Homo sapiens: one gene and its partners. The protein of the gene in region 1 purifies or fractionates together with the protein of each later gene. This does not show direct contact. Each region holds a gene or a part of one and is shown in the gene's direction. Other genes may lie near its edges.

Region 1 (6,864 bases):
TTATTACCACAAAAGGATAGAGACCAAGATCACCAAAGGTAAAAGGCACATAGGAGGAAATCTGTGAGAAACCAGGCACAATTTTTTTTCTTTTTTCTTTTTCTTTTTTTTTTTTTTTTTTTTTGAGATGGAGTCTCGCTGTGTCACCCAGGCTGGAGTGCAATGGCACAATCTCGGCTCACTGCAACCTCTGCCTCCCAGGTTCAGGTGATCCTCTGCCTCAGCCTCCCAAGTAGCTGGGATTACAGGCATGTGCCACCACACTGGCTGATTTTTGTGTTTTTAGCAGAGATGGGGTTACACCATGTTGGCCAGGCCAGTCTGGAACTCCTGACTTCAAGTGATCCACCCGCCTTGGCCTCCCAAAGTGCTGGGATTACGGGTGGAAGCCACTGTGTCCAGCACAGGCACAAACTTAGCAGGTGTTCCCTCCCAGTGCAGTTGCACAAGGGCACACTGAATTCTCCCAGCAAAGTTGTGTGCAACACATTCACAGTATTGCCAGCCAGGGAAGCTCCCCCAAGCCTTGACGTCTAGAGTTTTCGTTAAGGGTCATTGAGGTAGGAATGCAGAACCCACATGAATAACCATAAATATCCAGTCTACAACCCTTGCAGAAAACAAACATATAGCATGGCCCAGGGCCTCATGCATGCAAAAGCCAGCATCCACCATGAATCATATTGTTAGCATAAATTATCTGGTCAAACGTGCAGCAGGACCTACTTATGGTTTTCGACATAAAAATCTTACCAGGCAAGATACCCCAAGAGGTTGTTTTCCTGAAGTTGGCCCTAATTCATTCTAGGGTCAGATATCAGATAGCTGCGGACAGTGCCTGTGTCCTAAAACCTGCCAACATTATTCACAGTAGCAAATCCTATTCTGTTTATGCTGCCCCTGCCCTGCCTTGCCTTGCCTTTCTGGTGGAAAACACAGCGCAGGCTCTGGGCCTTGCTTTCTCCTCTGCTGCTGCTTTCTAACCTGCTCTGGTGCTTCCACCCGCATGGTGTGCTCTGCCTCCTGTTTCTAGGGATCTCTTACTATAAACTTCCTCCATAATAATCACTTCTGTATCTGATTGTCACACCCTGCCTGACTAAATACAATCCCAGGTATATTCTAGAATACACAGGGAGCCTATTACAACATCCTTGGGCCAGGCGCAGTGGCTCGCGCCTGTAATCCCAGCACTTTGGGAGGCTGAGGCAGGACTGCTTGAGCCCAGGAGTTCAAGACCAGCCTGGGAAATATAGTGAGACCCCATCTTTAAAAAGAATAAATTTTTAAAAATTGGCTGGATGTGGTGGCATGCACCTGTGGTCCCAGCTACTTGGCAGGCTTAGGTGGAAGAATTGCTTAAGCCTGGGAGTTCGAGGCTGTAGTGGGCCATGATGGTGTCACTGCACTCCAGCCTGGGTGGAAGAGTGAGACTTTGTCTCAAAACTAAAAATAAAAATATGACCTCCTTACTGTGGCCTCCAGGACACTACAGAATTCACGTCCATCTATCTCTGTGATTCAGTTTATCTTCAGCTGCAGCCATACTAACCTTGTTGCACTTCCCCAAACACGACAGGATCCTCCTGCTTTCATTCCCTTGTCTTAGGTGCTCTCTCTATGAGACCCTGTTACCTCAGATGCTCCATTCCTCCAAGTCCATGCTCAGATATAACTGTCTTTTAGACATTTCCCAACTACTCTACCTCCCTCTAACCTTCTATATTGTTTACTTTTGTGGTTGTGGTTGTTCTTTTTGAGTTACTGATTGTTGGAATTAAAAGGTCCCCGAGGGCCAGGGACAGTGGCTCACGCCTGTAATCCCAGCAATTTGGGAGACTGAGGTGGGTAGATCATCTGTGGTCAGGAGTTCGACACCAGCCTGGCCAAAATGGTGAAACCCTGTCTCTACTAAAAATACCAAAATTAGCCGGGCGTGGTGGTGTGCACCTGTAGTCCCAGCTACTTGGGAGTCTGAGGCAGGAGAATTGGTTGAACCTGGGAGGCAGAGGTTGCAGTGAGCCGAGATCGCACCACTGCACTCCAGCCTGGGCGACAGAGTGAAACTGCATCTCAAAAAAAAAAAAAAATTCCTCAAGTACAGGAATGCATAATTATTTTGCTATGTACATATCTGATTTTTTAGAGCAGTGCCTGTTGCAAGATAGGCACTCAATCGATACTCATTAAATTAACAATATACACATATATAAAACAGCACTTTCACATGGTTATGAGTGACCTAAGGAAAAACAGAACAGGATGACGTTGTAGTGGGGGCTGTTTTAAATTGACAGTTTGGAGCTGGGCGCAGTGGCTCACACCTGTGATCCCAGTATTTTGGGAAGCCGAGGCGAGTGGATCACCTGAGGTCAGGAGTTCGAGACCAGCCTGGCCAACATGGTGAAACCCTGTCTCTACTAAAAATACAAAAATTAGCCGGGCATGGTGGCAGGTGCCTGTAATCCCAGCTACTCAGGAGGCTGAGGCAGGAGAAATGTTTGAACCTAGGAGGCGGAGGTTGCATGAGCTGAGTTCGAGCCACTGCACTCCAGCCTGGGTGACAGAGCAAGACTCCGTCTCAATAAACAAACAAACAGACAGGTTTGGGAAAGCCTCTGAGAAAGGAATGGTTGGCCTGAGCTAAGCGCCATTACCCTGATCCACCTATTGTAACCACCTAATGGGTTCATTATTTTCCCTGCTCCCCAGATAGAGTCGACTTATCAAGACAGGATAATTGCAATAAAGGGTTTAATTCACATCAATCGAGCTAAATGAGAGACCAGAGTTTTATTACTCAAATAGGTCTCCCCAAATATTTTGAGACGAGCTTTTTTGTTTTTGGGTTTTTTTGTTTTTGTTTTTGTTTTTTTTGAGACAGAGTCTCGTTCTCCTTCTGTCGCCCAGGCTGGAGTGCAGTGGCATGATCTTGGCTCACTGCAACCTCCGCCTCCAGGGTTCAAGCGATTCTCTTGCCTCAGCCTTTTGAGTAGGTGGGATTACAGGCATGCGCCACCACACCCGGCTAATTTTTGTAGTAGAAACGGGGTTTCGCCCTGTTGGCCAGGCTGGTCTCGAACTGCCTACCTCAGGTGATCCGCCCGCCTCGGCCTCCCAAAGTGCTGGGATTACAGGCATGAGCCATCACGCCAGGCCTTCAATTATATTTCTGCAAGATATGTTCCCTGTCTAAAAGAATTCAATTTTTAATGTTTTTGAAACTTATGTGTTTGCTAAACAAATACGTGGGGGCTGATTTTACGATCTGAGGCCAAATCCACAAACTGATTACAGGGTCCAACAAATATTTGGCGAGTGGGAGGAGAGGGGTAAGTGAGCTGGACTGGTGGCGTCCTGGCTGTGAGCAGGCACAGCCGCAGGCTTCAGGGAGCCCCATCGCGGTGACCCTGGAGAGTGGCCTGAATCGGACGTGACCTTGAAGCAAGGTGGTTTTGGGGTCGCCGGCTGCACAAGGCGCGAAGTGGTTTAGGGTCACGGGCTGCACGAGGCTCCAGCACGTCAGGAGTGGGCGTCTGTTCATTCCCACGTGCATCGCGGCTCTCTCCTAGTTGACGCATGCACACCCCGTGGGTGTATGCGTTGTTCATTCCCACAACGGCCATCACCACCTCTCCGCACCCTCTGTCTCCTTCCTTCTCGGGCCTCACCCCTGGCCCTCGCTTTCAGTGCCCAGCCCGGACCGCAGCACTCCAGTTCCGCCCCAACCCGGGAACCCTGGACTGAGGCTCCCGTTTCTGTCCTTTCTATTGGGCGCACTTCCGATGGCGTCAGGAATTTCAGCCAATAGGAGCCAGCCAGGAAGTACCTCTCTGAGCGGTTGGTGCCGGGTATAAAAGAAGGCCGCGCAGCCACGGCTGCTCACGACGCCGCGGATCCCGAAGCCTGTGTAGCAGTGAGACATCAGTGAGGCTGCAGGACGAGCAGGATTGGAAGCGCCCCGGCCAGAAAGTGACCCCCCACCCCTTTCAGGACCCTGTGAACGGGAACAGCCATCCAGAGGGTTCAGGAAGGCGTCCGCGCCCTCACCTCTTCTCCCCATGAGCTCCCCCAGAGCTGTGGTGCAGCTGGGCAAAGCTCAACCTGCAGGCGAAGAGTGTGAGAGCCAGCGCCAGAGAAAGGACGCAGGGAAGGCTGGGGACTGGGCCAGGGGTCGGGTGCACAGAAGACACATGTGTTGACATCTCCCCTCCCTCTCCTCCTCCCCAACGCTCTTCTTTTCTCCCCACTCCCTCCCTTCCCTCCAATTCTTTCTTTCACCTCTCCCTCCCCTACTCTCTCCTCCCCTTCCTTTCTCTCTGCCTCTTCTTCACCTCCTCCTCCCCTCCCTACCTTACCTTACTCTTTCTTCTTCCCCTTACCTCTCCCTCCCCCTCTCCCTGCCTTCCCCTTCCCTCTCTTTCTCTCCTCCCCTTCTTCCCCTCACCTCTCGCTCCCTATTCCCTTCTCTACTGTTCTCCTCTCCTCTCTTTCTCTCCCCTTCTCCTTCCCTCCCCTCTCCCTTCCTATCTCCCTCCTCCTCCTCTCTTTCAGTGGCTACAGCAAACCAAACAGCCCAGCAGCCCAGCAGCCCAGCCATGTGAGTCCCTTGGGATTGGTATCTGGAAAAGGAAGGAAGGTGGGACGTGGGGATGAAGAACAGACTGGGTGTGTGGGGTGCTGGCTCCTGGGAACGAGAACTACTGATAGGGCTGGGTCTGTGTGAGAAGGGAAAGCGGCAGAGGAAGGATACAATGAAAGAGGAAGGGGAGCATTGGCATCCCTGACTTTCCCTCCGCCTACCCTACCTCCCAAGCTGAGGCTTTTTTCTTCCTCTCCTGTCAGGCGGCGCCTCACAGTCGATGACTTTGAAATCGGGCGTCCCCTGGGCAAGGGGAAATTTGGGAATGTGTACCTGGCTCGGCTCAAGGAAAGCCATTTCATTGTGGCCCTGAAGGTTCTCTTCAAGTCGCAGATAGAGAAGGAAGGACTGGAGCACCAGCTGCGCCGGGAAATTGAGATCCAGGCTCATCTACAGTAAGGACAGTCTCTGCTTCCTCTTTCATCTTTGACGTCTGAGCCCAGCATTTTCCCCAAATACTAACCCCAAGTAAACCCTGCACTTGTACCTTGAAGACTTCTCTGCAGTTCATTCCATTTACACTACCTCCTACCCTGGGTCAGACACTCGAATCCTGGTTCCTGTTCTCCGTTCTCCCCTCACTTGCTCCCAGATAGGGCTGTTGTTATTCTGGTCCCAGCATAATTTGCCACTTGTGTGACCAGGCAGTGACGGTGGCATCATATGATAGGCCTCAGGGAGAAATCTGACTCTTCCAACATTAATCCTTCAGACACCCCAATATCCTGCGCCTGTATAACTATTTCCATGATGCACGCCGGGTGTACCTGATTCTGGAATATGCTCCAAGGGGTGAGCTCTACAAGGAGCTGCAGAAAAGCGAGAAATTAGATGAACAGCGCACAGCCACGGTGAGGTGCGGGTCTGGAGGCTCTGGGGTCTCTGAGTTTACTGTGGGCTGGTGGGAGCTCTGTTTGTGGCTGTCAGGAGGGTCCGCATTGCCTTCTGAGAAGTTTACTTCTGAATGTTATTGTGTAAATTTAATATAATGGCACGTATGTTCTACAGCTTTATCCTTGGATACCCTAATTAACCTCATTGTATCTCCAGAATATTAATAAGTACTGCGTATAGGTTTGGATTCTTTGGTTATAAGCAACAGAATCTAACTCCACTGCCTTATGTAAAGAAACATATTGAAAGGCTCTGAAGGAGTTCACTGAATAAATAGCTAGAACTGGCTTAGAGATAGGTACAAAGAGATTTCTAGAGGGTTCCGGAAAGGGAACCATGGCAATGATTTTCCCAGGAGCAATGGTCCAATCAGCTTGCTGTGTCAGGATGAGTGGTCTTCCATCTTTCCTCCTGTTTCTGTTTCACTTCCTCGGGCCTCAAGTCCTGTGAGAGATCATCTGAGTGGCTCAATGTAGGTTCTATGTCTGGCTACTTGCTGTGCTAGGACAACAGGGAGGATCTGTGTCCATGTTACCATCCATCCTATAAGACCACATAAAAAGGAGAGGAAAACCACACCCCACACACCAGTAACTGGTGCAATTTAAAAGGAGGAAATGGAGTTACTGGACCAAAAAGATTCCACTGTAATCATACAATTCATGGTAAGTGTTCCACCTCAGACGGAAATTGTGGCAGGCTTCACTTCCAGGGTGACTTTTCTTTGCACCCACAGATAATAGAGGAGTTGGCAGATGCCCTGACCTACTGCCATGACAAGAAAGTGATTCACAGAGATATTAAGCCAGAGAACCTGCTGCTGGGGTTCAGGGGTGAGGTGAAGATTGCAGATTTTGGCTGGTCTGTGCACACCCCCTCCCTGAGGTAGGTCAGGTGGTGGTGGTAGGGTGAGTTCTGAGTACCAGTTAGGAATGACCCAGTTTAATGTATTTCATGTGTCCATGTGTAAAACCTAGATACGAACTTGGGGTTTCTATTGGAATACTGCCTTTTTCTTTTCTTTTCTTTTCTTTTTTTTTTTGAGACAGAGTCTAACTCTTTCACCCAGGCTGGAGTGCAGGGGCACAATCTCGGCCTCCCAGGTTAAAGCGGTTCTACTGCCTCAGTCTCCCAAGTAGCTGGGATAACAGGCATGTGCCACCACACTCGGCTAATTTTTGTATTTTTAGTAGAGACAGGGTTTTGCTATGTTGGCCAGGCTAGTCTCGAACTCCTGACCTCAGGTGATCCGCCCACCTTGGCTTCCCAAAGTGCTGGGATTACAGGCGTCAGCCACCATGCCTGGCTGAACTACTGCCTTTTTCTTT
Region 2 (7,183 bases), on another chromosome or scaffold:
AAAATCACAAGGAAGATGCTACTTTTACAAACCTACAGAATGTAGTCAAAGCTGTGCTAGGAGGCTAATTCATTGCTTTAAATGCTTTCATTATGAACCAAAAGTAAAAATAAACAAACAGACAGTCCAATAAATAAATTATAAATAATAATAAAACAGTAGAAGTAAGAAGTACTGTTAAAAATAAAAGTAGAAATTGGTGAATTAGAGTATACTATTTTCTATTTGATAACTTCAGTAATATTTGTAACTTCTGGGGAATTAATAAAATAAATGTATTATAACTAGTTTCATCAAGGAAAATAAGAGAGAAAATATAAACAACATTAGAAATGAGAAAGGGAATAAGCTATATACATAGAGGATTATTTTTTAATATAAAACACATCTATCAATAAAGTTGAAACCCTGAAAAAAATTGATGATTTTTCTAGGAGGATATAAATTACTAAGTTGGCTGAATTACTTCTGGAAATGGACCCAAGTCCAGATAGGTCTTTCAAAATTTCAAGGAACAGATAATCCCCCAGCTATGTAGCTGTTCAAGAGCATGGGAAAAGATAGAAAGCTGTCCAGTTCATTTTAAGAAGCTCACATAACCCTCATACCAAAACCTGCCCAAGAGAGGACAGAGGGAGAAAAACTAAAGGCAATTTTACTCATAAAGACAGTTACAGCAAAGATAAATTACTAAGTAGTAAGTCTTACTTTATTAAAGGAATTGTCTTCCAGTGATTAAATAAGGTTAATTCTTACAATGTAAAGATTACCTAATATTAGGTTATCTGTCAATAGAATCATTACATCCAATGCAGGAGGAAAAAAGTAACCATTTTGAAATGTGCCAAAATGATACATGACAAAATCCAATATTTATTTCAATTTTTAAAAACTTAATAAGTTCATTCTTAATATGATAAAAAAAATCTAACTCAAGGGAAAATCATCATCTTATAGCAAGCATTAACAACTATGACTTTAATATTCTTGCCTTCCTCTCTAAGCTTATATTTTTCTTCTTATTCTACTTGTGGTACATATATTTTATGTGTTTTGGTTGCCAAAATAGGAATGTGAGATACGTATGTATGTATGTGTGTGTGTATATATATATATATATATATGACATCAATAAACAAATCTTAAAATTAATTTCAATGATAATCCCTAGATGTTGCTTCTCCATAGATGCCAAGTCCTTTCTTCTATTAGGTCTAAAGAGTCTAGAAAGATGCAAGTATGAGTTCCTTACAATTCCATTTTTATTCTCAGGAGGAACAATCCAACACCAATCTAGCTAAATTCCGCAAGCTCCAGCATGAGCTGGAGGAGGCCGAGGAACGGGCTGACATTGCTGAGTCCCAGGTGAACAAACTGCGGGTGAAGAGCCGGGAGGTTCACACAAAAGTCATAAGTGAAGAGTGATCATGTCCTGATGCCATGGAATGACTGAAGACAGGCACAAAATGTGACATCTTTGGTCATTTCCCTCTGTAATTATTGTGTATTCTACCCTGTTGCAAAGGAAATAAAGCATAGGGTAGTTTGCAAACAATATCCTTAGACTGGTCTTGTCTTTTCTCTTTCCTGAAGCCATGTCAAAGTTTGAATAGTCACCAGAGTTGTCAAACAATCACATTCAATTGGTGACTTTTTTGGGGGTCTACGGCAACACTTTAAGGCTGTAAAGATGTCACTTATCCAGAAAGACTGTTCTAATGAACAGAAATTTGGAAGTCTATTTTATTTCTTTCTAACCTTTCCTGATATCTGAGTACAGTAAAATCTTAGAAAGCTCCTGCTTCCCCTAACATGAACCTTTTTCAGGATAGTACTAGCTATATTCTCACATAGGGGATTCAAACTGAATTGTATCATTAATTCTCTTTGTTGAATAACTGTTATCAAGAATATAAATACAAAATATTCTTAATTAGCCCATGGATATTTACATTATCAATTCCAATGTACCATATGCCCACAGTAGGTGCACTGGGTAATGGGTTTGACACGACCTTGTTCTTCACGAAGCAAGTTTCAAAATTAAATTAAATATGACTCTTCTCCCTATGAAAACTACAGGGTGTCTATCAAATCTGGAGACATAGAGAATATTATTTTTACGTTATAATGTAGTATCCATGAGCTATTAGCTTATGTTTCCAATCTTTATGGTCTCCCAGATAATCATATAAAGAGCCAAAATAAATGACTAAAAGTGTCAAGAAAATATGATCTCAAAGTAGGTTATTCAAATCTATATTCAACACACATAATGATGGGTATGAGTTTGGTACAAAAAGTAGATATCATAGCAATCTGGACCACTCAGAGACGTTTTCCTAGAGGATCAAGATTTTTAAACTGGATGCAGCTGAGATGCATAGCCAAAAATATAACCTTCCTCGACAGAATAAAGGAAGAGCTAAATGGTAACTTCCCATCAAATAGAAAGCAAGAGTATCTTGGTCTAAATGGCACTGTGTGAAAATGATGTAAATTAGACATGGTAGTTTAACAGGTAAGTTGGATTCACACTGTCGCACTGGCCTTAGAAAGGGTGTGGAATTGCTCTTCTCGCTGCATAAGCCCCTCTTTCACTTTGTTCCTGTATCACGTGGAATTGCTTAAGTGCTTTATAACGTGGCAGTAATAAACAAAAACAATATCTTACTTCCTACTTATTGAAAAGTTTATCCAGAGCAAGACAAAAGGTTGTCTGAAGATTCCCATCAGATCCTATTGAGAGCATTATTAAAATGTTTTATCTTCCTGAAAATCATTACCCACATTTTGCAGGTGCCTAGTAAAGAAACAGACATGTAAGAAAGTAAAATTAGGTACCTGTGGTAACAAAGCAGGCTAATAGATGGCTAGGAAAGGCCCTCTCAGACGCACATCCCTGCAATACCCTTCCTGATGGCTTTAATCTACCCCAGGTAGAAGAGTGTCACAAGTGAGTACGCTGGACCGCAAGTCAGATGACCAGAGTCTAAACTGCTGTGTGATTTGTGGAGATTCTCTTCTATTTTTTGGATCTCAGTTGCTTTATTAGTAAAATGAGAAAGATGAATTAGATGATCCCTTATGGTAATAAAACTATGTGACCTTTACAACTAGTATATCCAGATATCTCCTTTCATAAGGCAAGCTATAGCCATTAAATCAATTGAGATATAAGTACAATAATACAGATGTGGGTGCAAAACCAGGTATATTAAGCAAATGTTGTCCCAGTCCTAGCCAGACAATGCTGACAGACAGAGACGTGAGGCCACAAAGACAGTAAAATAAACTTTTTTAAAAAATTAAAATAGAAAACAATATTCAGGTATTGTTTGTAAGCAAAATACTAAATATATCCCATGGACTGCTGATAGAGGAAAAATCATCGATGCTGCATATTTAGACAGAGAAATACCCTGTTTCCAATATTTTCTTATGTTGAGTTTCATAGAGGAAACAAGATTTCACAAGCAACTTGGGCACCAAAAAAAAATGAGAGAAGCAGGACATCTCTGTTTGGAAGGCAATGCAATTTCGGAGCAAGTCCGAAGTGCCGGTGGAATGATTTGACAATGAATAAGAGGCGACTGATTGAAGGAAACAAAAGAAGCTATCTTTGGCTGCTCTTCATGAAGCAAGTTTCAAAATTAAATTTCCAAGCAACTTTGAAAAAGCACAATAAATTGCAAAAAAAAAAAAAAAAAAAAAAAGGAAATCTTTTTGAGAGAAAGCAACGTTTTTATAACCCTCTGCTAAAGAGCAGAAGTTTTCCTCCCGAGTACACTATCTGTAACTGCGCAGGCAGTTGAAAAGACTTCACACAGGCGACTCTGTGAAACAGAAGAGCAGTAGGCAACAAAGTCCAGGGATTCCAGAACTTAGCTGTCTTTGAAACAACACCTTACATTCCAAAGGCCAACAACTTTAAGATTGCCAACGACTCAAATTATTTATAGGAGATTGATTCATATACTTAACCCAATATGAGAGGAAATATTTCTAATTATATCCAAACATCTTTAATATGAGGGGAATTAGGCTTGGAGACCTTCAATGCCAAAAACATGTTTTGCCAAATATGTTTTAAGAAAGAGGAGGAGGTTACGTGTTTTCCATATTTGAGCCTATAAAAGTACCCTTGGAATGAGTATGACTTGTCTCTCCTCATAAAGCTTCAAGGTAAGTGTGTGTGAGGACAGGGCTCTGTCTGGAGGACGGTAAGGGATGTCTGGCTGCCCGCGTGCATGCCACACATCCTGGCTCCCACTGTCCCTGGCAGCCCTGCCAGTGAAGCACCAGCTTACTCCGTAGCAATTTTAATTAGATGTTGTAGTCTTCCCAGTCATTTCCTGGTTCTCAGTTAAGAATTGTTCTATAATCGGGAATTGTTATAATTTAATCAGAAGAGGTTTGCTCTTTTTCTTACAGTTCTGATCCACTTTAAGGTCGCATCTCTACGGTAAGATTCTGATTTTTTTTTTTCTCATTCCTCACAGAGTGCAAGGAATCTTCTGCAGTGGTTTGGACAGTGGTGAGGGGCGGGGTGAGGGAAGTGATAAAAAAAATCATTTCCATTTCATGGTTGATCACGCTTCTCTTAAAAAATGGAGAATGACTTTAGAAACTGGTTCTCCTTAACTCATATCCCTCGCAATATATGAAAATGCTTTCTCAGAGTCCTTGGGAATTTTATTCACAATAGTGAATTTCATTCACTATTTCCAGCATTGTAGTTTATCTTTTAAATGACTGCATTACAATATGCAATGTAACATTTCAAAGTGTTACTCAATTATAGAGAAAATTTAAATTTTCTATACCATGGCTTTTCCTCAGCACTATAAATATAAAAACCTATGAGAGATGATGTCTAATTGGATAAATAGAATGGTCTGAATCTTTGCCTTGGAAAAAGTTGCTTAACTGCATGTTGTTTCACAATCTATAAAATAAAAATTAACGAATATATACACACACACACACACATATGTATATATACACACACACAATACGAAACATGATTGTCAGCATATTCAGCAAGATGAAGCATTTTAATTATGTTATCTGAGTCAACATAGTTTCAATGGGAGAAATGTATCCAAATGAGCTTCCCTGGAAAAGGTATCTTTATTATTATAAAGTAGAATATACATGAAGATTATTGACAGCATTAATGAATGCTAGCTAATGTGGCAAGAGGGGGATCCTGAAAAGAACAAGTTTTGTGAAATTGTTATAAAAATGTTAATAATAGAGCAAGAAAACATAGGTAATAACGTTTTATAATAAATATTTAAGAAATGCTAAAGATCAGTGAAGAAGTTGAGTTTGTCAAAATTATTATACAGAGACAACAGAAATTGATGGATAACAGAACATTTTTTAACAATGCAAAACAAAGAGCCACACATTTCTGCTTTCCTGTATATTAGGAAGTCTTCGTAACTCCCAAGTTTATAATGAAAATATTTCTGTCATGTACAGAATAGTTCCTAAAATTATAGCAACATATTCCTATTGTTCTTTTAATTCACCAAGCCAGCTTTGAGCCTTTCTCTGTGTCCAGCATTTGTTCTAAGAGGTGTGAAGGATACCATAAAAAGAAGAGTGCTCCCTGCCTGCAAGGTGCTTATAATCCAGTTGGGAAGATAAAAACTATAAGTGAAAGAACTGGAGACTATCCTGCCACCATTATAGCTTTATGTTCTCTATAAGCCAATGATAGGCAGCTTATAAAGATTAATATACCTAACAAATGAAACAGAGAAAGCAGCTAAGAGACTGCAATAGGTGAGCCAGAAACAACAGTCTCTTTCCAAATGCATGATTAAGTGTCTGTCAGCACTGGCACAGAACAAGGAGACTGACATTTTATCCTCAACCAAGCCAGGGAGGTGGTCATACCCAATGCAATGCTAAGCACTCAATTGGTCAGTAAATTTTTTTTTAAAGTTTTAAATGTGAATCTAATGGTCCAGTTTCTTAATTTCTACAATTTCTTTTCTTCCTCTCCCAGCCAGGGTCCTTAACTGGGCTACCATCAATAACCTGCAGCCATGAGTTCCGACTCTGAGATGGCCATTTTTGGGGAGGCTGCTCCTTTCCTCCGAAAGTCTGAAAGGGAGCGAATTGAAGCCCAGAACAAGCCTTTTGATGCCAAGACATCAGTCTTTGTGGTGGACCCTAAGGAGTCCTTTGTGAAAGCAACAGTGCAGAGCAGGGAAGGGGGGAAGGTGACAGCTAAGACCGAAGCTGGAGCTGTGAGTAAAAACACCTGGAGCTGATTAGACTCTGCCTCATTTTGGGTTAAGTTAGCACTTACTTTTTGATCTGGCCTCTCTTGTTTGACTGGACAGACTGTAACAGTGAAAGATGACCAAGTCTTCCCCATGAACCCTCCCAAATATGACAAGATCGAGGACATGGCCATGATGACTCATCTACACGAGCCTGCTGTGCTGTACAACCTCAAAGAGCGCTACGCAGCCTGGATGATCTACGTGAGTTCTTTCTCACGGTCTTCTACTCATGAGAGTAGTTAATAGTTTTTGAAAAGTAGTAGATGATTAAGGTCCCCATCAAATAATTCTGTTCCTCCCTTTTGTTTTGGGTGCAGACCTACTCAGGCTTGTTCTGTGTCACTGTCAACCCCTACAAGTGGTTGCCAGTGTATAATGCAGAGGTGGTGACAGCCTACCGAGGCAAAAAGCGCCAGGAGGCCCCACCCCACATCTTCTCCATCTCTGACAATGCCTATCAGTTCATGCTGACTGGTGAGTGGCTCAGCTGGTTTTCATATGAATTATTTTACCATCCATAATCACAAAATATTAGAACTAAAAAAAGACCTTTAGAAAAAAACCCAATTCACGCCCCTGGTTGTTCAGCAGAGGTGACTAAAGCACAGAGAAGTATATACTGTCAAAGCTCGTATTAAAACACAGCTCTCCTGATTACACCTCACTGACTTTACTAGGCCATGCTATTACTCCATCCCATTAAGTTTAATTTGTTTATGGTCTCCTTGCTTGGAAACACACAATTTATTTTATATATTTAAGTAATAAGAGCCAAGATTAAGTAACAACTGAATCATATAAATCATGTATTATCTGAATAGAAATGAAAAATAGGAGTTCAATCCTTTTGGTGCCTCAGTTTCTTGTTAATTATAAAT
Region 3 (7,525 bases), on another chromosome or scaffold:
AACCCAAATATTCATCTTTTCTGTGGACACATCCAAGCAAACAAAGTTGTGGGAAAAAAGCATGTAACTTTGCTAAACAGGTCTCACTTTAATTTCATGATTATCTCTCAGTACTCTGGGGACATGTAGTATACCTTTCACTCTCCAAAATGAACACTTCACATCTTCTCTCTATATACCCACTACATCTCCTCCCCTGCCTTCCACTCAGTCAATGACTTTGCTGCGTACGTCACTGAGAAAACAGAAGCAAGCAGAATTCCTTCCTAAAATTCTCAATGGCTTCCCATATCACTCAGATTAAAAGCCAAAGTCCCTACTGTCCCATAAGTACCAACTCCCTCATCTTTTCAGCATCAAATCTACTAAGCTAAAACTTGCCTTCACTCTCAGTCTTCTTTCCTAATACACAAAGTGTTCCTGTTCCCATCAGAGTCCAACCCTTCCATTTAGCCTCTGGATTCTAGCCCCTCCATCTTTTGCATTATCAATTTGTTTAACTCACAGAATTTTTCTCCCCAACACAAATATATTTAATCTTGCCCATCTTTTAACAATATGCTTAGTTTTTCCTATCTTGACCCCATGTCTGCCTCCAGATACCACTTCATTTATTTGTTATCCTTCTCAACAATCCTTTTTTTCTCTAATCATTATTATAAGTACTTGTCCCTAGGTGTTGAATCACCCCCAGGATTTGGGATCTTAGGGGCCCCAGATATTGGAGAACAGAGAGAACACTGTGTCCTTTCCAAATTATTGACCCACAGAATGCATGTGCCTTCTAAAATGGCTGTTTTAATCCACCATATTTCGGGTAATTTGTTATGCAGCTATAGTCACTAGGACACAGTCCAAGCCATTACTCTATTCCATCTGCATTGTGGCAATGCCTATCTATCCTTGGCCCTGCTGCCCACTGTTGGCCTACCCTTGATGCCTGCAGTCTACACTCAACATAGAAAGCAGAGTGATTTTTACATTCTGTCAGATTTTATTGCTTCTCTTCCTAAAATTCTCACTGGCTTCCCATATTACTCAGATTAAAAGCCAAAAAGTCCCTATAGTCCCATAAGGACCTACATTACCTGACCCTTCCTAACTCATCTCCTGCCACTCTCCTCTTTGCCCATTTTGCTCCTGTTACAGGTTTTCTTGCTGCTTTTTTAAATTGACAAATAAAAATTATATATATTTACACATATCATGGTGTACAACATGATGTTTTAAAATAAGTATACATTCTGGAATAGCTTAATTCAACTAATTAACATATGCATTACCTCACATACTTATTTGTTGTGGTGATAACACTTAAAATCAACTTTCTTACCAATTTTCAAGTATACAATACATTGTTATTAATTATAGTTATGATGCAGTACAATAGATCTCTTGAACTTATTCCTCCTAACTGAAATTGTATATCGTTTAATCAACATCTAATTCCTTCTCCCAACCCTCAATCCCTGGTAATCACTATTCTATTCTGCTTCCGTGAATTCAACTTCAGATTCTACTTATAGGTGAAATCATGTTGTATGTGTCTTTCTGTGCCTGGCTTATTTCACTAGTATAATATTCTCAAGGTTCATACGTGTTATCACAAATTAGACACTTTAGGCATACTCCTACTTTAGAGACTTGGTACTTTGTGCTCCCTCTGTCTGAAAATTCTTCTTCCAGATATTCATATGGCCTGCTCCTTCACTTCTCTCAAACTTCTACTCAAATGACACCTTAATACAGAAGCCCATCCAGGTCACTCCCCTTGGTGCAGTATTCCCTTTACTCCTTACTCTGCTTTATTGTTCCTTTTATAGTAGTTAATACCATCTGACATACTACATATTTACTTGTTTATTTGTTTATGTATATCCACCCCTGCTGACTGAAATTGCCATAAGGGCAGGGCTTTGCCAGTTTTTTGCATTATCCCCTGTGCTATAACAACAGCTGACACATAGCGGACACTCTGTAAGTATGTATTGAGCAAACAAGTGAGTCAATGACCTACCCACATGATGAAATATAACTATGTAGAATGTAATAAAAGTAGTTGACTTGAAAGTGACTATACAACCTCTTTTCAGTAGTGATGGCCCTTTGGAGTCTCAGAGAAATTTAAAAGAAGACAAACACCAGTCTGACTTGCTGAATCTTAAGGGTTTTTTAAATTAATGTCATGCTGCCACACTGGACACTATAGAAGCTAAGACATGAACATCTCCAACCTAGGTCCCAACTGTATTTTTAAACAAAATTTTTAAAAGAAAAAAAATAATCTTGTTCATTAGACATTTCCTATCTACCATCTGTCTTCAGCTCTTTACTACCACTTTAACTCCCTGGGTATATTTGGGAGAAATACCAGCAAGCCATTGTGACCTTCATCTCTAGTGAAGAAATGTTTGCTTCAGCTGCCCCTGGTGACACTATCCTAAGCAGTTTACATACGTGCATGTATGAATTACATAAGATTGCATATAATAAAGTATACATAATCTCCCATATGTGATATAATAATATAATTTCTGATACCTATATATATAAAATCTAATTTAATTCATACAACCCCGTAAGGTGAAGGCAGTATTTGATTTTCACCACATTTATGTTTTTAATAGATAAGGAAATGCAAGGTTATAGAAGCCTATAATATTTCCTAATCTGAGGAAAGTAGAGAGCGAGCAGCTTTTACACAGACTGCTTAAAGACAGTTTCCAAAATAATTCTCCTTATTTAGATTGGAGCCATTCTTCCCACTCATATCTAATCACAAAGAACCATACAAATACAAAAGCCTTCGCATTAATCTCCTGTGTTTTCTATGTAGACAATCCTTTAAGAGGCAAGTCTAAGGGAAATGTGTACTCCCTCACCCAGTGCTGCTTCTCTTCTCTCCTTGTCCAAGCTCTGCAAGGTTCTCTGATCCACTCCTGGTGGCCCATAATAGGGGTCCCACTAGAATATTATGGTCTTGTTTCAGAGCTTTCAAAATCTGAGTGATCAGTCTATCTGTAATTGATCAGAGTTTTAACTATTATGTAAAGAGTCCTCACTATCTGTAATCCTATAACTCATCTATGTATCTTGGTCTCATTCATATTTTCTTCTTTCATCTTTCAACTTCAAATACAGTAAATATAATACATACTTATTATGTCTGCAAGTCAGATGTTAAGTTCCAAAAGAAGTAAAAATAAATGAGTTGTGAAAATCTGAGAGAAAAAATAGAACAAGTTTCCTTCTGGCCTAGAGCCTAGCACTTTGGGTAAGTCGCTAGACTTCGGTGAGTTATTTTCATGGAGATTTTGTTTTTAACGCCTGATGACCTATTTCATAGAATTTTATCAAAATAAATTTTTAAAGTATAAAAGATTCAATCTATCAATGTGTCAAAGATAAATTCTAAGTCAACAGAATTATAAAAACAGTGATCTCATTAATTGGTAATTTAAGCCAGCTAATGATAGTTGAAAATATCTCACCAGAGCTCAGTTAGGGTCACACTTAGAGTAGGTATATTTCCTGCCATATTCAGTAACAGCTGTGTATGTAGCAAAACCATCAAAAGCCAATTTATGAGTATTATGGGCATATGTGATGGCCCATCCATCTTTTCAATCCACAGGGAGAATATCGTGGATACCATGACTTTCCTCCCACCTTAAATAAAAATATGTGGTTCCCACCTCATTAGAGCTATAGCTAGTCATGAGAGTCTGCCCATGAACTAGGAATGCATGTTTGTGTCTCCTTCCATTATGCAGAGGAAACATGCATGGAACATCACACAGCATCCTGTTGTTCCTTCAGTGAAAACATACAAGCTGGAGATATCCATGGAAAGTCCTCCAGAAAAAGAACAGAAGTGTTTATATCTATTCTAAATCCCTTATGCCTCCCCCAGTGGTCCATCACCACTGCCTAATCTGAGAATTCACTTTCACCTTCATATTTAGACTTTCAGACTTTAAAAGAATCTATCGCCAGTCTTTCTAAAATCCAGACTGTGGCTAGGAATGTTGTCTTAAAATCCATCGCTCACTGCTTCCAATCATAGTGTCAGGTCTAAAATTCATTCCAGACTCCTTAATGGCTCTAAGAACCAACAAATTAATTAATCCTAAATTCCTCACATCAGACTCATTCTGTTGGACCAATTTTATAGGCAGAGGAGTAAGTGGGAATCTGGCTTTGAATTCTGTGATGAATGATGCAACAGCCAAACTGGAGAAACAGTGTTAGAAGCCCTGAATCCCCATCCCCTATCAAATGCCTATAAAGAACCCTAGATCATCCTCTGTTAAATTATTTATGGGTGTCAAGAAATATTTCTAATTATATCCATTCACAGCCACAGTCAGTGAATATTGTGCAAAGAGATTGCCAAAAACGGTTTTGCCAAGTAGGTTCCCAGCTAGGACAGCTGAGGTGGCTGCTGTGTTTGCAGAATGGTCTCTATAAAAGTGGAGCTGAGATGCCTCTTTCCCATCCTTCCTCAAAATTCTTGAAGGTATGTATATGTGGAAGAACACTTACTTTTACATTCCTGATGATGATGATTTTTCATTTAAGGGATGTCTACTGCTTCCCAAATTTTAATTATTCTTTCCAACATTCTTAAGGACGACATTGTAGACAATATAGTTACTAGTATTTTGTGATTAAATGGGGAAAAAAAAGCATCCCACATTCTCTTTTTTCTTTCAACAGTAGTTGTCTGCTTTGAGCCTGCCACCTTCTTCATCTGATAATACAAGAGGTAAGAATAATTTATTATTACACTCTAAAGAACAAAGGAATCTCTATATTGCTACATCTTAATGAGCTACCATTTTATTTCCTAGTTTAGTATTGGGAATAGGATATCGGGGCAGCTGTTCTTTAAAAATGCCTTCTCATAAAATTTTGACTTTTCAGGCCACTTAATCAAACAAAACTTAATGAAACTTCTCTTTCACATGTTGTTAGAACTACAGAAAGAATGCAGCCATCATATGTAATATTTAATGTGAACTACTACTCCAACTTAACCCATAAAGATATATCAGAGAGACCGCATGATAAAATCAAGGTGTGTTTATCTGGAAGTCGATATTTCTAGGTGCCAATCCAGGCTTTTCACTGATTCTATTTGCCTGGGTCAAGCCAGTTAGCCTTTATGTATCTTGAAATACAGTGTGTTGCAAGTGGAATTAACAAACCTGCATTTAGCGGAACAGGACTCATGTCCCAGTACCGCCACTTATCACCCACCACTATGACACTGAATGACCCTGAACCTTTCTAGGCCTTAGTTTCCTCATCAGTAAACGAGGAGGCTGGATTCTATTGACTGCTAAGGTCCTTCCAGCTCTTGCCAACTGTGATTGACGTCAGTGGTTTTCAAGGACTCCTCCACAGAATCAAAACATTTAATGGAACCCTGCTAATGGAGAATCAAAACTAATGGAATCCTGCTAATTGTTCATGTGGAGACATGTACTTTTAGTATGATGTTAAGGATATATATAATCATGAAAACCTATTCTACACTTAAGAATTATTTTAAATGAGTTTATATTTAACATAGCAGCTATATTCATTTAGAAAAGAACAGAAAACACTGTTCATGTGGAAATGTTCCTTCCTTAAACTTGAGGCAATGATCACTGTGTGGGTGGATTCAAGAACCCCCTGCAACAACCTGAGGCTCTATTGGGGCTTGATCCCCAAGTTGGGAAACAATTAATCTATAATAAGACAGGAGATGGGAAGGGTAGCAATCATCTTTCTGTGTTTCCTGGATACACTGCATTATAGTAACCTCCACGTGGTAGTGTGTTGTTAATTCAAGTTGCCTGGTGTAAAAACAAACACAGAAACAAAATATAATGTAATATAAATAACATTTCTTCTTCAAAGAAAAAAAACCTGACATTAAATGTTCCAATATATATCCCCTGAAAATATGTCTAAGTTTCACAGTGTCATCAGGACACTTTTACAGATAAGACTGATTTTGAAAATAGAGTATGTGGAAATTCCATAGCTAACATTTTAAGTTGAGGGAAAGTTAATGCTGATGACAAAAGATCAAGACTCTGGAAAGCCTACAGAAGGTGGTGGCTATTGCTGTTGTCGCCATCATTGCTGTCATTGTCATTGGCAACCAAGACACTTCTGCTCCACAGAGGTCACCTTCTTTTATTCTGGCCACTCACCCTGTCCTTGCCATCAGGACAGCAGGACTTATTTTATTTTCTCATAATTAATTTGTCAGTAGGGAAAATTTTTTAAGTTCATTTTGGCTTGAAACTTTATACTGGCTATCCATTTCAGAAAAATATTTAGAAGACTGGTTGGTATTTTTAAAAAGAGGAGAAGAAAGAACGAGATTATAAACCTAAGAAAATAAGAATCAGATTTTAAAATATGTTAGGTTGAAATCCAACTAAAAACAAAGAGAAATACAGATCAACACATACAATCACTATAAAATTTTATTAAAAATTAAGAAGTTCCTTTTCTCCAAGAATCTTTTAAAGTTGTTTTTGGTTTAGATACTACTTCTGACTTTCAAACAATTTCAAAACTAATAAAGGAGATTTTAATTTTAACTTAGGGCAAAATTATATGTTGGATATTCAGCTTTCATTGTAGTTATTTTTTCCTTTACTTACCTAATACCTGTCAGTTAACTAGGTGTTTATTTGTAATGATTAGATCTGGACTTATGTCCGGAAAGAACAGGTGTATCTGTCTACATTCAATTTTAGTAAATCTGACATCCAATTTTAATAATTTGGGATGAGAGGAAAATTTGCATAAAGATCTGTATTTGAGTTTTTAAGACAGGTTCATTTATATTGTAAAGCCAGTGGAAACAGTTATTGTCCATTTCTTTGTATCATCACGATGTTAAGAGGGGGAAGTTGGAAATAAGAAAGAAAAGAAAAGTAGCAAGAAAAAGAAAAAATTCTGAACATGCTTGGAGCATCACAAATGTTGCTGATTGAATGTTGATTCCTCCACATTTCTCAACTAAGGTTTACAACATAGAGGATGGAACTTAGGCTTAAAGTATCACAAAAATTAAGCTATCAACATAGTGCTTTCAAATCAATGAGCTGATCTCTCAGCTCCTTGACATAGTATACAGGAGTGGTCCCTAAAGGCAGGGGTGAGGAAACAAGCATGGAAAATTAAGCACATTAATATGAAATCAACAGAACAATTCTCCACCCCAACCCTGAATCATCATTTGGCTCTGTTTCTTCCTCTAGGTATACCTAGTCCAGTACTGCCATCAATAACCTGCAGCCATGAGTTCTGACTCTGAGATGGCCATTTTTGGGGAGGCTGCTCCTTTCCTCCGAAAGTCTGAAAAGGAGCGAATTGAAGCTCAGAACAAGCCTTTTGATGCCAAGACATCAGTCTTTGTGGTGGACCCTAAGGAGTCCTACGTGAAAGCAATAGTGCAGAGCAGGGAAGGGGGGAAGGTGACAGCCAAGACCGAAGCTGGAGCTGTGAGTAAAAA
Region 4 (7,000 bases), on another chromosome or scaffold:
CAAAGGTAGAGGCATTCTAGGGAATCTAAATATGAACAAAGCATGGACCTTGCTCTGAAGGATCTTTTAAACCTAACAGGCGCATAGTCTTATGAATCTCTTACAGACAACAAATCGAGAGAAGAGCTAAGGAAGTACGTAAAAGGGCAAAATGGCCTACAAATAGAGGGTCAAGGTTGGTATGACAGAAGTAGGATTTGAGAGAGGTGGATGTTTTGGAAACAAGAAAGGGAGTGACCAGAAGAATGACTATGGGAAAGCACTGGGTTTGTTGTAGAGGTGGAATTGGCCTAGTTTGGCTGGAGCATGAGCTGCATGAAAGAAAGTAAAATAAAATAATGGCAGCTAGAACTCAAAGATAGATTAGGGCCAGATTGTGAAGGGCCTTGAATGCCACATGGAAGAACATTCTGTAGGTATTTTGGGCAGGAGATGAAAAATGACCCTACAGAAGGCCCAATAATGATGATAAATGGTTAAATATGTTTAAGTTACCAATCTATGCTAATCTTTTAAGAAATGTTATCTCACTGTAACTATGAATAGTGTACTGTGTCCATTTTGCAGATGAAAAATGAAGGCTCAGCAAGATTAAGGAAACTGGAAATGTCAAGAGCTGCAGCTAGGACCCAGACTTGGGTCTGTTGGATTCTAAATCCTGTTCTGTGTCTCACTGTGATTGATATATTGTCACTTCTTTTATTAAGAACTGATAAGGTCTTAATCCTCTGTCAAGAATATGGCTGTAGAAAAAGGATGTTTTCAAAGTTGTGAAGGGACTGCTTCTCACCATGTTATGTTAAGGAATGTAATCACTACCCAACTTGACTTGTACTGTTCTCTGTTTTGAGACCAGAGCTAGATGGGAAATTAAAGAATTGGATGATGTTTTATTTACATGCCTGATGACATCAATACATGCTCATAGCAAATGCCTTTGTTTTCATTTTCAGTATCTAAGCTTATTGGCCCTAAGTAAATCTTAGGTTAGGTAGAGCTCAGTTCCCAGGGACATTCAAGATTCATAAAGAAGTGATATTTTTCCCAGCTAAAATATTTTTCTTCTTACCAGGTTCTCTACTTAAAAGACAATGACTACTGATGAAGGTGCCAAGAACAATGAAGAAAGCCCCACAGCCACTGTTGCTGAGCAGGGAGAGGATATTACCTCCAAAAAAGACAGGGGAGTATTAAAGGTGAGGCCACAAAGCTGAGTGACATACAAGGAAACCTGCTGTCTGGAAAGATTATAGCATCTCTTTCTGAGGGGGGCTGGGGTGGATAATGTTTATTGATGGTTACTAAGTGCCAAACACTAGAGCTAGATTCTCATTTTGTCTTCATAACTTCAAGGTTTTTTTTAAGAGTTGAGTCTCGTTATGTTGCCCAGGCTGGTCTTGAGCTCCTGGGTTCAAGTGATCTTCCCATCTCAGCTTCCTGAGTAGCTGGGATTTTCTTTTTAAATTAATTAATTAAATTTTTGAGAGAGGGCATCTCATTATGTTGCTCAGGCAAGTCTTGAAATCCTGGCCTCAAGCAATCCTCCCACCTCAGCCTTCTGAGTAGCTGGGATTATAGGCACGAGCCACTGTGCCCAGCTAGAGATTTTAATTTTTAATCCCAGATTATAGATGTTGAAATTGAGACTGGGCTAGGTAAATTAACTTGCCTAATATCATATATCTTAGTAATGCAGATTTACCTGGGGTTCAGGTCCAAGTTATATCTCACTCTAAAGGGCTATATTTCCCTATTCTCAGAGTATACAAATAGGTTACTATTTTAATGTATCCTTTTAGTACACTAAAGCTAGCTAATGACAATTTTGAAGACTTTTTAAGGAAAGAAAAGCTAACTTGAAAAATTCAAAGGGGTTTTATTTTATTTTATTTTATTTTATTTTATTTTATTTTATTTTATTTTGAGACAGAGTCTCCCTCTGTTGCCTGGGCTAGAGTGCAGTGGTATGATCTCAGCTCACTGCAACCTCCGCCTCCTGGATTCAAGCAATTCTGCCTCAGCCTCCCGAGTAGCTGGGATTACAGGCGCCTGCTACCATGCCTCGCTAATTTTTGTAGAGACAGGGTTTCACCATGTTGGCCAGGCTGGTCTTGAACTCCTGACCTCAGGTGATCCGCCTGCCTTGGCCTCGCAAAGTGTTGGGATTACAGGCATGAGCCACCGTGCCCGGCCCAAAGGGGTTTATTTTTATATATAAATATTGTTCCTGTGTACAGTGAAGATATCTTTTGCGATTTCCTCTTAGAATATATCTTACTTTTGAATTAGCTTTCCTACTTATTAAAGCACTATACAGTCATTCACCATATAATGACATTTCAGTCAGTGACAGACTGCACCTTCAGCAGTGGTCCCATAAGATTATAATGGGGCCGAAAAGTTCCTATGGCCTAGTGGTGCCATAGCTGTTGTAGCATGGGTAGTACAGTGTATTATGTGTTTGTGGTGATGTGGGTGTAAACAAACCTACTGCACTGCAGTCACAGTTATGTATAGTACATAATACTTGATAATAAATGTTTATATTACTGGTTTATGTGTTTACTATACTTTCTATCATTATTTTAGAGTGTGCTTCTTATTTTTTAAAAAGTTAACTGTAAAACACCCTTGGCTGAGTGCAGTGGCTCATGCCTGTAATCCCAGCACCCTGGGAGGCCAAAGCAAGAGGATCACTTGAGGCCAGGAGTTCAAGACCAGCCTGGGCAACATAGTAAGACCCCTATCTGTAGAAAAAAAATTAAAAAAATTAGCCAGGCATAGTGGCATGTACCTGTAGTTTCTACTACTCAGGAGACTGAGGCAGGAGGATCATGTAAGCCTGGGAGTTCCAAGCTGCAGTGAACTATGATCATACCACTGCATTCTAGCCTGGGTGAGAGTGAGATCCTGTCTCAAAAACAAATGAACAAACAAAAAACAGCCTTGGGCAGGTCCCTCAGGAGGTATTCAAGAAGAAGGCATTGTTATTATAGGAGACAGCAGCTCCATGCATGTTACTGTCCTGAAGACCTTCCAGTGGGACAAGATGTGTTGGTGGAAGACAGTGATACTGATGATCCTGACCCTCTGTAGGCCTAGGTTTATGTATGTGTTTGTGTCTTAGTTTTAAACAAAAAAAAGTTTAAAAAGTAAAAGAATAAAAAATTTAAAAAACAGAAAAATGCTTATAGAATAAGGATATAAAGAAAGAAAATATTTTTGTACAGCTGTACAGTGTTTGTGTTCTAAGTGTCATTACAAGAGTCAAAGCTAAAAAAAAAGTTTACACAGTAAAAATGTTATAGTAAGCTAAGATTGATTTATTATTAAAGAAAGAAGAAAAATTTTAAAATAAATGTAGTCTAGGTGTCCAGTGTTTATAAAGTCTACGGTAGTGTATGGTAATATCCTAGGCCTTCATGTTCACTCACTGCTCACTCGCTGACTCATCCAGAACAACTTCCAGTCCTGCAAGTTCCATTCATGGTAAGTGTTCTGTATAGGTGTACCATTTTTTTTCTTGTATACCTTTTATTACTGTACCTTTTTCTATGTTGAGATATGCTTAGATACACAAATACCACTGTTTTACAATTGCCTGCAGTATTCAGTGCAGTAACACAATGTACAGGTTTGTAGCCTTGGAGCAGTAGGCCAAACCACCTAACGTGGGTGTGTACAAGTAGGCCAGGCCATCTAGGTTTGTGTAAGTACACTCTGCGATGTTCACATAAGGATGAAATCATCTAAGAACACATTTCTCAGAACATATCCCTGTCCTTAAGCGATGCATGACTGTGTGTGTTTCTTCACTCTATAGTTAATCATTTTCACGTGCATTTCTTTTGTTTTGTTTCTTACAACAATGTGGTGAGACAATCAGAGCATCTCTTGATTCTTCCATCTTATAAGTGAATAAACTGAATCTGAGAAAGGTTAAGTGGCTTTAGTCACATTAAATAGTTATTTCTCCTACACCATTGTTAACACATGTAAGTTTTGTATAGTTAAGTTTTGTTTTTCCTGAAAAGATTATCTGATGCATTCTGAATATTACCAGGATGCTGAGTTTTAATATCTCTTGTGCCAGCAGTAGCAAGTAAGAATTTTTGTTTTGTATAACTTTGCTTATGTGAAAGCCTTCTGTGCCTGGATCTCTTCTGAATATATGTGAATTGCTATTATGTGCTAAGTCAAATTTTGGGGACTTGCAGCTATAGAATAAGGGCTTTATGCTATAGATTTACATCCTATTGTCTTTTTTTAGAAGGCTTCTCAACCTTGTAGCTATAGTTACTCATCCTAAATTCCAGGAAGCTTCTAGAAACAGTGGAGACTTTGCAGGCTGTCCTCAGCATCTCCCTGCCTCTGTTTACGACTTACCCTTTCATCTTTTCAGAGTGCCCATGCCCAGAGAACATGATCCCCAACTTGCCTCAGACCCTGTTCTGTTCTAGGGAGTAAATCTAATTGCAAGATTTTTAGGCTTATTAAGAAACATTTGAGATTTGAAGCCCTTTAAATTATATCATTTATCATTGTCTAGAGCCTCGGATTTCACCATGAGGCTTTTGGTTAAGATTTAAATAGGTCTAGTAACTGTGCAAGCTAGGGCAATTTAGTTAACCTCTCTGTGATTAAGTTCCTGTTTGTAAAATTAGAATAATAATGCCATCAACCTCATAGAGTTATTAGGATTAGGTGAAGCACTTAGCATAGTGCCTGTCCTATAGTAATCTATCTTATTAACTATTACGTATTTTTAAAAAAAGAACCAGTGCTGGTTTGGAAATTCAGTAACTATCTGAGGAAGATAAAAGATGGATTTATATTTTAAAAATGAATAGAACCTAGATTGTGTTCTTAAGGCAACTCTAGATTTAGGTACAAATTCATCTTGCTAGGGAAGCCTGAAGTGATACCATAGTACCACTTGCTGGTGTGGATGGCTCTCTGACTCTCTGGTAGCCATTCATCCCACATGCCCAGTTACTGTTTATAGTCCTAGAAATGCAGATTCCTTCCACGTGAGGCTTACAGTTGAGCATAGCCTCCCAAATACCACATGCAGTTCGTGAACATGAGCACTTGTAGAATATTGTGTAATATCTTTTAGATTAATGTTTTGAGACTTTTTTTTTCTTTTGAAGTCCTAGAAGGGCAGTAGTGTTTCTTTGCCTTTAAAGAATATTTGGGGCTGGGTGCGATAGCTTATACCAGTAATCTCAGCACTTTAGGAGGCTGAGGCGGGAGAATCATTGGAACTCAGGAGTTCCAAACCAGCCTGGGCAATGTAGCAAGATCTCATCTCTACTAAAAATAAAAAAATTTGCCAGGCGTGGTGGCATGTGCCTGTAGTCTCTGCTACTCGGGAGGCTGAGGTGGGATGATCACTTGAGCTGAGTGATAGAGGCTACAGTGAGCTATGATTGTACCACCGCATGCACTCTAGCCTGGGTAAAAGAGCAAGACCCTGTCTCAAAAAATAAAATAAAGATGTTTGGGCTTTTGAGTTAAGAAAGCTGTGGAATTTAAGTTCACAGTGTTTATGTGATATTTATGTTAGGTGGACGGTATACTTGTAAAAAAAGAATTTAGGAGCAAATAATCGAATTATTTAAATAAAACTCAAAGCAAACTCCTTCCCCAAAAAGATGTTCATCAGATGTTAGCTACCATCCTCTGTTATCTACCAAAAATGATTAATTTGGCATAGATTACAAATTAACAAATTACACCATCACACACCTGGGTTTGATTTTCTTTTCCCAGAACTGACCAAATACATTAGCAGCTTGCTCTGCCAAGAACAAAATAAATACACTGGATTTTACAGTAGTTAAATACTTTACTAGAAAACAAGTTATTCAGTATCATATCAAGCAGTGCAATGATACTCATGTTTTTTACAGATAGACTATGTTTCAAATAATAGGAAATGTAACCTGTTTTACCAGGAAATTGGGCTTTCTGAAAATAAACAAGCAGAATCTAGTCAGGAGCTAATGTTTTTAGCAAAGGAGGGAAATAAAATTACACCTTTGAAGCTTTGCTTAAGCTTCTTTTTGAATATTTTAAAAGTCCACCATTCTTTCTGGTCTAAGTCCGTGTGTATATGGACTAGCTCACAAGCCTGTGTTAGAGAGTTTAGTGTCGGGCGCGGTGGCTCATGCTTGTAATCCCAGCACTTTGGGAGGCTGAGGCGGGTGGATCACGAGGTCAGGAGTTCGAGACCAGCCTGGCCAACATGGTGAAACCCCATCTCTACTAAAAATACAAAAATTAGCTGAGCACGGAGGCGCACGCCTGTAATCCCAGCTACTCGGGAGGCTGAGGCAGGAGAATTGCTTCAACCTGGGAGGCAGAGGTTGCAGTGAGCCGAGATCGTGCCATTGCACTCCAGCCTGGGCGACAGGGCAAGACTCCGTCTCAAAAAAAAAAAAAAAAAAAAAAAAGAGTTTACTGTCAAAATATAGGGCATTAAACCAATGAACAGGATTTATTGGTTAATTCTTTGAAGGAATAAATAGTGCGATTAGCAATAAAAGTAGATATAACATAAAAGACAAGTTGGTAAAGGACAGTTTTCTAACAATGAGTTATTGTGAGGAATGAAGGGAGGCATTAGAAAGAATGGATAATAGTATATTTGCATATCTGCCTGGATGTCTTGGGATGGACTGTGTGACCTTTTTATTCTCTGATTACAAGTAAAAAGTTTGACCTCCTTTTTCTTAATGTTTGTCTTTTCTAGATTGTCAAAAGAGTGGGGAATGGTGAGGAAACGCCGATGATTGGAGACAAAGTTTATGTCCATTACAAAGGAAAATTGTCAAATGGAAAGAAGTTTGATTCCAGTCATGATAGAAATGAACCATTTGTCTTTAGTCTTGGCAAAGGTAAGAGGGTATTTTTTTGAGTTGTGTTTTACTTAGCTTTATTACTATTTGTAATATATAGGAGCAGAGGATTCTATCCTTTCTAAAAGTAAAGAAAT

What was found.
Region 2: the proteins of AURKC (region 1) and MYH1 purify together in Homo sapiens (affinity purification with mass spectrometry; 3 studies listed by BioGRID and IntAct, with this or other methods). This does not show direct contact.
Region 3: the proteins of AURKC (region 1) and MYH4 purify together in Homo sapiens (affinity purification with mass spectrometry; 3 studies listed by BioGRID and IntAct, with this or other methods). This does not show direct contact.
Region 4: the proteins of AURKC (region 1) and FKBP5 purify together in Homo sapiens (affinity purification with mass spectrometry; 3 studies listed by BioGRID and IntAct, with this or other methods). This does not show direct contact.

What each region holds. Positions count from the first base shown.
Region 1 is NC_000019.10:57,227,188-57,234,051, forward strand, and holds the start of AURKC (aurora kinase C), read left to right. Parts: upstream 1-3,835; 5' UTR 3,836-3,926; coding exon of another isoform or gene 3,927-3,927; 5' UTR 3,928-4,061; coding exon 4,062-4,119; intron 4,120-4,554; coding exon 4,555-4,600; intron 4,601-4,845; coding exon 4,846-5,037; intron 5,038-5,354; coding exon 5,355-5,493; coding exon of another isoform or gene 5,494-5,498; intron 5,499-6,272; coding exon 6,273-6,421; intron 6,422-6,864. UniProt on the Homo sapiens protein: Serine/threonine-protein kinase component of the chromosomal passenger complex (CPC), a complex that acts as a key regulator of mitosis.
Region 2 is NC_000017.11:10,515,522-10,522,704, reverse strand, and holds the start of MYH1 (myosin-1), read left to right. Parts: upstream 1-4,162; 5' UTR 4,163-4,185; intron 4,186-4,434; 5' UTR 4,435-4,465; intron 4,466-6,022; 5' UTR 6,023-6,062; coding exon 6,063-6,266; intron 6,267-6,362; coding exon 6,363-6,506; intron 6,507-6,622; coding exon 6,623-6,779; intron 6,780-7,183. Other genes in the region: MYH2 (myosin-2), read left to right, coding at 1,273-1,425. UniProt on the Homo sapiens protein: Required for normal hearing. It plays a role in cochlear amplification of auditory stimuli, likely through the positive regulation of prestin (SLC26A5) activity and outer hair cell (OHC) electromotility.
Region 3 is NC_000017.11:10,466,531-10,474,055, reverse strand, and holds the start of MYH4 (myosin-4), read left to right. Parts: upstream 1-4,496; 5' UTR 4,497-4,519; intron 4,520-4,719; 5' UTR 4,720-4,768; intron 4,769-7,112; exon of another isoform or gene 7,113-7,271; 5' UTR 7,272-7,310; coding exon 7,311-7,514; intron 7,515-7,525. UniProt on the Homo sapiens protein: Muscle contraction.
Region 4 is NC_000006.12:35,636,916-35,643,915, reverse strand, and holds part of FKBP5 (peptidyl-prolyl cis-trans isomerase FKBP5), read left to right. Parts: intron 1-1,072; 5' UTR 1,073-1,091; coding exon 1,092-1,196; intron 1,197-6,757; coding exon 6,758-6,902; intron 6,903-7,000. UniProt on the Homo sapiens protein: Immunophilin protein with PPIase and co-chaperone activities. Component of unligated steroid receptors heterocomplexes through interaction with heat-shock protein 90 (HSP90).